Homo sapiens: one gene and its partner. The protein of the gene in region 2 interacts with the protein of the main gene of each other region in a pairwise test. Each region holds a gene or a part of one and is shown on either strand. Other genes may lie near its edges.

What was found.
Region 1: the proteins of DIRAS1 (region 2) and RAP1GDS1 interact in binary tests that used the Homo sapiens proteins (3 or more experiments, as listed by UniProt).

Annotation. Positions count from the first base shown.
Region 1 is NC_000004.12:98,439,304-98,444,581, reverse strand, and holds the end of RAP1GDS1 (rap1 GTPase-GDP dissociation stimulator 1), read right to left. Parts: intron 2,593-5,278; coding exon 2,465-2,592; 3' UTR 724-2,464; downstream 1-723. UniProt on the Homo sapiens protein: Acts as a GEF (guanine nucleotide exchange factor) for the Rho family of small GTP-binding proteins (G proteins) that stimulates the dissociation of GDP to enable subsequent binding of GTP.
Region 2 is NC_000019.10:2,713,798-2,718,406, forward strand, and holds the end of DIRAS1 (GTP-binding protein Di-Ras1), read right to left. Parts: exon of another isoform or gene 4,515-4,609; coding exon of another isoform or gene 4,482-4,514; intron 4,079-4,481; coding exon of another isoform or gene 4,010-4,078; coding exon 3,413-4,009; 3' UTR 770-3,412; downstream 1-769. UniProt on the Homo sapiens protein: Displays low GTPase activity and exists predominantly in the GTP-bound form.

The DNA of each region.
Region 1 (5,278 bases), on a different chromosome or scaffold from region 2:
CTAGGTGGGTGGGCTGGCATGACTCCAAGTTGCTAATGGGGTTGGGGGGAAAGGGGTATATTCTAGTGCATTGCACTCAGGCATCTTCTTTGCTTGTATTCCTGCCCTTTTCATCTATGTTCTAGTACTGGCTCAAGATTGACAGTTAAAGCTTTGTTGTGCTGTTCTTCCCTCCTGTTGTCTCCCTTAGAATGTACTCTTAGTGGGTAGCAAACTAACTTAATAAATAGTGGCCTCTAGGACTAAGATTTAGTAGCAGGAGATAAGCGAGAGTACAGTCTGTAGACTCTCCCATCCACTGCAATGGCACATCAGTGTACCATCTAATTTGGTAGCCCCTGTGATAAGGGCACAGCCTTCTGGTCTTTCCGTACAATGATGAGTACTTTGAATTGCACTTTATTTTGCTGGAGATGGGAGTTCCTAGCATATTAGCAAATTGATGGCTGGCAGCTGGCCTAGATGGTAACTTCTCTCACATTTACGATTTTAGGATGCTTTTGTTAAAATTTTTTCCCTAAAGTCAGACAAACTATCAAATCTCAAACTTTCTATCAGTCAGTCAGTCTATCTTTCTGGAATTAGTTCAGGCAGTCTGGAAACTTCATGGATGCAGGATTCATTCATTCAGTCAACAAATATTTGTTGAACATCAATAGCAAGCCTTATTCTAGGAGCTGGAAATAGAGACAAAATATACAAACAAACCAAATGATGCCATTATAGCTTCATATACTATTTATTAAGTTATTAATATGAACAGATATGCAACATTACAGATGTCTTTCAAAGCCTGTAATAAAATATAGTCCACTATCCAGCCCAGGAGAAAGACAACAAACAGTATCATTCTTATAGTAAGTGTAGCATACGTACTCACAATAGTTCCCTTATTTGGACATCAAAGGGAACAATCAGTCAAGATTCTTTACCTCCATTAGAATTTAACTTTCTTGGATTATAGCTGTTTTAGAGTCAAAAGTCCAACTTAGATTATCCACAGAGATGTGTAGCATCACATGTTGGAGAGGAAGGAGCTACTGTCACCTCCGTGGCAGCCCTTTCTACTGTCTTGCAGTCCTTCTATATCGAAGCCCATCTTGCCTTTTAGGCCAGTAGTGGTCAAATTTGGGTATGGGGAGAAGGCAGGTGGGTCACAGGGAGGTTTTGATTAATTTACAAAGATTGTGTTTCAAAGCTCTAAAAACCCATTTGGTGGTGGCAGTGGCAGTGAAGAGTACACTATATTTCGCCAAGGGGGTCTTCTCATCTCTTGAGTCTTGGCTTTCTCATATCCTTTAAAATTGCTGCAGTTCTCAGTGGGAAAGTGGAGGTGGCAAACTCTAACAGCGATTGGTATGGGGCCATCTGCAGAATGAACTGGACTGGCTACTATGGCTTTTATAACCTGCTTTCCTTTCTTTAGTCTAGACAAGCTTATTTCTTCATCTTTCCACCTACGTCCTGCTAGTTCTAACATAAGATTTAAAAGGACTATGGAAGATAAAACTTCTCACTTTCTAGCTGAATGATGAAAAACAGCAAAAAAAAAAAAAAAAAAAAAAATTCCATTCTTCAATGAACTATACTCAATTTCCTCAGTTGAAAACAAACAAGCGCCAAATGAATTTTAAAGACAAGTGCTGGATAATGCTGATTAACTGGTAGAAGTAGTTCCTGAGTGAAACAGCGTATGTATCAGAATCTAAAATACAAGCAAAACCCGAAATGCTCTGTAATAGGGATTGTAATAGTGATTCTTCAACCCCTTAGTTTCACACTGAAAACTACAAATGTTTTTCAATATCAGGCTATTGATAATAGTCAATTAAATATGGAATCAGAAACCTCAGAAAGTCTTGCCAAGTTTGTGGCAGTTTCAATAGTCTAAAAAGGAAAAAGGAGAAACCAGAAGTTAAAGAGTAAGAGCATTGGAATTTTATTTAACTCTAGGTACCATGGATTTGACATCAGTAGGAAAGACTAATGAATAAGCAGCCATACAACTTTTTTGGTCACTGTGCTTCCCAAGCACCAAAAAATGGAGCTATTTTTCCAATTCAGTTTCATCTTTAATAAGCTAGACAGATCCTGCTGCATTCTTTGTTTCTAGTTTACCAGTACATCATTATGTAGTTTACTGCATGTGTGGAGCAAGTCATTATGTAGTACCAAGTTTACATCATCATAGGACTACAACATGCACATTCTACTTAATGTAGCTCAAGCAACAGGAATACAAGAGAACGGTTATGGGTGGAGACTTGCCTTTGACAAAGTCATGATCACACTAACTATAGGTTTAGAAATCTTATTAGGGAGGTACCTACAGCGGTTCTTCAATTGGTATTAGAACATCACATGCATGCACAAGTGGTATGGTAGAGAATGAAGCGGAAGAAGCCGCTGGATGGAGGACAGAGGGGAAATTAGAGATGGGATGATGCCGTGTATCGGGCAGTTCTCAGCTTTCCACAGTAAGTCTCTGCTCTGTGAGAGAGGCCTGCTGGGCAACACTTTTGTTCTCATGACTGCGAAGTTTGGATACGACATCTAGAAAAGCCAAATCCTGTACTTCCTTGTGTAGACATTCTGGAAGACAAAAAAATAACAGATATGATTCTGTTAGGTTGTTCTAAGTCTATCCAAAACATATACCAAAATGTTTATTTTGACAAGACTAAGCTTATAAAACTAGAAACAATTCTGGAAAAAGACATAGCAGTAGCCTAGCAATGTCTTTCTTAGAAATGTATTATAATTTAAAAAAATCATAAAAACTTTACTTTTTTTTAAATTAAAGGAAAAAATTTTAAAGATGGGGACTTGCTCTGCTGCCCAGGTTTGAGTACAGTGGCATGGTCACAGCTTACTGCAGCCTCAAACTCCTAGCCTCAAGGGATTCATCCTGCTCAGTCTCCCAAGTAGCTGGGATGACAGTCATGAGCCACTGCACAGCTACTTGCCCAATTTTTAAAAAGAAAAACGAGACGTCAAGTTCTACAATGTAAGATTAATTACAATAATGAGTTATAATTAAACACAGCTCACTGTATGATCTCAAGGTTTGGTTACATACAACCCTATCACCAGTTCAAATATGAAGTCCAATGACTTACCAAAAAGCTTAGGATATGTTTCAAATTAATTTTGTGGCAAAAGAAAAGTTTATACTTCATATCCTTCAACAAATTTCTGTGACACTGGACTCCCTTTTAGATTTTTTGTCCTCTTCTTTCTGACTTGCTTTCTCTATTTAACTTCAATTACAAGAAAATATAGGATTCCTGTTAGGACTCTGAGAACTGTTATATGGGATGAGTGAAGTCTAATAAGCTTAATGTAATCAGTACTACTGAAACTGATGTGTTTATTTTGATATGACTGACATAAACCAATGAACCAGTGTTTTTAGTAGTAATAGAAAAATCCATCCTAAAATTCATATGGAATCTCAAGGGACCCTAAATCTCCAAAACAATCTTGAAAATGAACAAAGCTGGAGTTCTCATACTAACTGATATCAAAACTTACTACAAAGCTACAATAATCAAGATAGTGGGGTACTGGTACAAAATCCTACAACTTGGGCCAGGCGTGGTGGCTCACGCCTGTTATCCCAGCACTTTGGGAGGCCAAGGTGGGTGGATCACCTGAGGTCGGGAGTTTGAGACCAGCCTGACCAACATGGAGAAACCCCATCTCTACAGGTGGTGCATGCCTATAATCCCAGCTACTCAGGAGGCTGAGGCAGGAGAATCGCTTGAACCTGGGAGGTGGAAGTTACGGTGAGCCGAGATTGCACCATTGCACTGCAGCCTGGGCAACAAGTGCGAAACTCCGTCTCAAAAAAAACAAAACTCTTACAATTCAACAACAACAACAACAACACCCTTCAATTCTAAAAATGGGCAAAGACTTGAATAGACATTTCTCCAAAGAAGATATACAAATGGCCCACAAACACATAAAAAGATTCCCATCAGTAATCATTAGGGAAACGCAAATAAAAACCACAGTAAGATGCCACCTCACACTCATTAGTTTGGCCATTACTAAAACACAGCAAATATTGGTGAGGATGTTGAGAAATGATAATCCATGTGTACTGCTGGAAGAAATGTACAATGGTCCAGCCACTGTGAAAAAGAGTATGACAGTATTTAATTAGTAAAAACAGTATTTAATAAAAAAATTAAACATTGAATGACCATATGATCTAGTAATTCCACTTCTGAGTATATATCAAAAATAATTAAAAGCAGAGGCTCAGAGATATTTGCATACCAATGTTCACAGCAGCATTATTCACAAAAGCCAAAAGGTGGAAATGGCCCAAATGTCCATGGATTGATGAATGGATAAACAAAATGTGATATATACATATGATGGAAAATTATTCAGCTTTAAAAGGAAATGAAATTCTGACACGCCTACAATGCAGATAAGCCTTAAAGACCTAAGTAAAATAAGCTAGACAAAAAAGGACAGGAGTTTCTTATTCCACATATATGTGGTGACTAGAGTTGTCAGATGATGGAGACACAAAATAAATGGTGATTGCCAGAGGCTGTGGGGAGGGGTAAATGGGGAGTTATTGGTTAATGAGTACAGAGTTTCAGTTTGGGAAAATGAAGGTGGTTCTGGAGATGGATGCTGGTGATGATTGCACAGCAATGTGAATGTCCTTAATGCCATTAAACTGTATACTTAAAAATGGTTAAAACAGTAAATTTTATGTTTTGTATGTTTTACCACAATTCTAAAAATGCTTAAACAAATGGAAGAGACTCAAAGTCTCTGCAAGGAAATAAAAGATATAAAGAAGAAGCAAATGGAAATTTTTAACTAAAATATATAACTGAAATAAAAACAGGTTCAACATCAGAATAGAGGGGACAAGGGAAATAATCAGAGAACTTCCAAGATAAAACAATAGAAATTACTCAGTCTGTACAACAGAAAGAAAATAATCTGTGGGTAAAAAAGAACAAAACCTCAGGGACCTACAAGACTATAATTAAAGATCTCACATTAGTGTCAACAAAGGTCTGGAAAGAGTGGATAGAATGGGGCTGAAAAGTACCTGAAGAAGTAACAGTCAAAACTTCTCAAATTTAGCAAAAGACATAAACCTATCAATTCAAGAAGCTGAGCAAACTCAAACAGGATAAACCCAAAGAAATCCATGCCAAGACACATCATAGTTAAACTTCTGAATACTAAACGCAAAGAAAGTCTTGAGAGACAAAAATGAAACCTTACCTACAGGGGAATA
Region 2 (4,609 bases):
CCGTCACCTCCTCCACCCTTCATCCCATCCCTCACTTCCTACACCCACCACCTCCTCCACCCTTCATCCCATCCCTCACTTCCTACACCCGTCACCTCCTCCACCCTTCATCCCATTCCTCACTTCCTACACCCACCACCTCCTCCACCCTTCATCCCATTCCTCACTTCCTACACCCACCACCTCCTCCACCCTTCATCCCATCCCTCACTTCCTACACCCATCACCTCCTCCACCCTTCATCCCATCCCTCACTTCCTCCACCCACCACCTCCTCCACCCTTCACCCCATCCCTCACTTCCTACACCCATCACCTCCTCCACCCTTCACACCATCCCTCACTTCCTACACCCACCACTTCCTCCACCCTTCATCCCATCCCTCACTTCCTACACCCACCACCTCCTCCACCCTTCACCCCATCCCTCACTTCCTACACCCGTCACCTCCTCCACCCTTCATCCCATCCCTCACTTCCTACACCCACCACCTTCTCAACCCTTCACCCCATCCCTCACTTCCTCCACCCACCACCTCCTCCACCCTTCATCCCATCCCTCACTTCCTACACCCATCACCTCCTCCACCCTTCATCCCATCCCTCACTTCCTACACCCATCACCTCCTCCACCCTTCATCCCATCCCTCACTTCCTACACCCATCACCTCCTTCACCCTTCACCCCATCCTGCACCTCCCCACCCTTCTTGATCCTTTACAGGCGGTGAGCTGACACCCCACGCCCACCACAGAGACAGGGCGCCATGCTGGTGGGGAATGCAGGATCCACTTTTTTATTGCAGGAAGACTATGTCTAGAGCGAAGGCTACACAGACCCCACGATGGGGGAGTGGGGGCACCCACATGCGGGGGGAGAGGGGGCAGGGGCGGAGTCACAGCAAGCATGGCCTGGCACAGTCCCCAGCACCAGGGATGCCCAGGCAGGATGGGCCAGCAGCCAGGACAGGCTCGGGTCCCCTCCTATTGCAGATGCCCTCTCTCCCCAGGGTCGGGCAGGGCCTGAGGTGGGAGAGGCCTGGAGGTGGGCAGGGCCCCAAGGAGATTGTGCTATCAGGGTGTGTCCCTGAGAAAGGGCCGCAGACCCCTGCCCAGCCTCACTCTCTCCGGCACCTTCAGAACCCAGAAGCTACTGCCAGGACAGGAGAGGAGGCAACATCAGCTGCTGGTGGGCCCTGGGCCAGCCCAAGTTTTGGGGGGACCCAGCTCTGCTCAGACACAATGCCAGCTCTTCTGGGAGCCCGGTCCACGTGCTGGATAGCAACACACACGCACGTGTGCACACTCCCTCTCTCTGAGTGTGTCCAATAAACATTTGTTGAGTAAACACTCACACGAACACAGAGGAAAACAAACATGCTTGTACCAAATCAGACACGAGCAATCTGTTACCTACATAGTCCCACCTGGCCACATGACTACAGAGACACATGTGTGCAATCTCTCTCTCTCTCTCACTGCACAAAAGGGCGTGCGCACACACACACGTTGCTTCCTCACACCCAATAAGACCAAAACCTCCATCTCACCTTCCCTCACTAACTTAGCTGCCATGCTCCGAGCCCCGCTGTGGAGAGACCCACATGGTACAGAACAAAGGGCAGCTTCCAGCCAACAGCCAGCGAGGAACTGAGGCCTTCAGTCTTGCAACAGCAAGGAACTGAATGCTGCAACAACCACATGAGCTTCTAAGAAGCAAATCCTTCCCCGATCAGGCCTTCAGATGAGACCTCTGCCTGGCGAATGCTTTGATTGCAGCCTCCTGAGATCCCAAGTAGAGGACCCAGCCAACCTGCACCCAGGCTCTTGACCCACAGAATCTATGAGATAATAAGCATGTGTTGTTTCTGGTTGCTACATTTGTGGTCATTTGTTACACAGCAGTAGCTGACTGATACAGATTTGGAACCGAAAGTCACATTGCTAGAGTCATGTTGCTATAGAGTGGAACACAGATCGTGTCCCTCAATCAGGACAAACATATTTACAGATAAATGCTCTCAGATAAACCATATCACCCACTCCCCAAAATATAGTCATGCTCATACAGGCACAAAGATTCACACAGACACCTCACACATATCCAGTCTTGCTGACAACCACACACAGGTATCTACAACTACCCACCTCTCTGTATACCCTACACCACTATTACACACACAGACTGCCACAAAAACATATCATCCCAGACAGACACACACAGGTATACACGCAGATGCACTTAGATACAAGTCACCCATCCGCGCACCCCAGGTTGCACAAATACACCATTCCATAGCCACTTCCGTGTATGTTGGACACAACCCTGTGGGGTCACACGAGTGTGGTGTCACTCAGACTCTCTCAAAAAACACCCAGAACCTCATGGCTGCAGGTACACTCGACTCCAGGACGCCACCTTCCCGGGCAGGCCCTGCTCTCTGGGGCACAGGTGGTGGGGAGGAAGTGGGTGGGGCAGACCTCTGTCCGGGGCGCCCTCGGATCCTGCTGGTGCTGGCTCCCATCGGCTGTCCCCCCACGGGGGTGTAATTGATGTATCTCTGGCCGGGGCCCCGGGTACCCCCTCCTGAGCACCCCAGGTCCCCACCCGCCATGCGTTGCTAACGTCTCTGTCTTGGTGGAAGAGGCGGGTCCCGGGTGGGCGGTGTCCGGGAAGCCCCTCCACGCCCATGGTGCCTCTCCAGCGGGGCAGTTGTGCTGTGGATGTGGCTGGTCCCGGGGGTGGGATTCGGGGCTGGCAGGGGCACTGCTGCAGGCCCTGTGGTTATTGCCTGGTGGCCTGAGGCCCATCCCACGGGCCCCACACCCCACTGTGAAGACAGAGGAGAGAGGTGCGTCTGGAACCGGAGGAGTGGGCACAGATCAGAGGTCACGACGGGCCGGGTGGGCTTGGGTGTATGTTAACACCAAATAGGAGAAAAAAGAAAAAAATATCTGAGGCCGATGTGCATTTTCAACTCCCCCCTCCCCCAGAAGGTCACAGTGATCAAATGTGAGGGACAGGACGCGCAGGTCTGGCTGGGGACACCCCAGGGAAAGAGATGGAAACGGGGAAACGCAGCCTCCTCTGGTCCTGGTGGGAACAAGCAGCTCCTCTTGCCAGCTCCCCATCCTGTTTTCCCATCTGCAGGACAAGGGGGCCACCTCCGGCTCTTGGTTTTGGAGGGTACAGACAGAACAGGAGGGTGGAGAGAGAGCAGGGGAGGAAGAAAAGCCCCAGCCCTGCCTCGGGGTGGGCAGGGGCAGCGGAGGGGGGGGCGGTGGCCTCGGTTTCCCCAGCCGAGGTGTCGGAGGAAGGATGAGAGAAGAGGAGGAGGCCGAGGAGGGTGTCGGTGTTGGGGGAGGCAGCGGGGGTCAGTGGGGGTGGGCGGCGGGCAGGCGGGCGTTCCGGGCTCACATGAGGGTGCATTTGCCCTTGACGCGGTCTGTCCTCTTCTGCTTCCCGGAGCGCTTGCCGTCGATGTTGAGGCTCATGTTCCGGCGCGTCTCCAGCGTCAGCAGCTCCTGGAAGAGCTCCTTGACGTTGTAGTTCATCTTGGCCGAGGTCTCCATGAAAGCGCACTTCCACTCCTGGGCCACCGCCTGCGCCTCGCGCGTGTCCACCTCCCGCTGCGTCTCATCGCACTTGTTGCCCACGAGCATCACGGGGATGTCCTCCACGCTGCCCTTGATCTGCACGATGAGCTTGTAGATGGGCCCCAGCTCCTCCAGCGACTGCTTGCTGGTGACGGAGAACACCAGGATGAAGGCGTGGCCCTTGGAGATGGACAGGCGCTGCATGGCCGGGAACTGGTGGCTGCCGGTGGTGTCTGTGATCTGCAGCGTGCACACGCTCTTGTCGCAGCTGATCACCTGCCGGTAGGTGTCCTCGATGGTGGGGATGTAGGTGTCGCGGAACGTGCCCTTCACGAAGCGCAGCACCAGCGAGCTCTTGCCCACGCCGCCCGCCCCGAACACCACCACGCGGTAATCGTTACTCTGTTCCGGCATCTTCCCCGCGGCGGGTGGGCGGCCGGGGCCGGGAGGGCTGGTGCCAGCTGCAAGAACCCCAGACCGAGCCTGTGCAGAGAGGAGGGTCACACGTCAAAGGCCACCCAGGCTTGAGGGGACAGCCCCACGCCCCGGGGAGGGAGGAGGACATGGCGGCTTCTCAGAGGAGGTGGCTGCCGTGCCTCCTGCCTCCTGAAAAGGCCCATTTGCTTGTGGCTGACTTTGCAGTTCTGTCCCACAGGCGGGCGCACAGCCAACACCCTTTGCTTACTTCTCCCTAACAAAATCTGGGGCCTGAGCTTCCCCGGGGGACGCTGAGCTAGGAGAGGCGTGGGAGACGCCGGGATGCCCACGAAACTCCTTCCCCGGGTGTGGGTGTCCCTTCCAGGCTGTGCCAGCTTCCCCCTCTCTTCCCAGTGTGGCAGGGGCCCCTGGAAGCTAGCAGGCCTGGCTTCCACCTCTCGCTCCACACCTGCCTGGCTCTGAGACCTTGCCGAGCCATCATGCCACCCTGAGCCTGTTTGGTGGCTCAAACGGTGCCCGTCTCCAACAACCATGGGTCCCCTGCTCTTCCGCCAACCCAGAGATGGCCAATCCTCA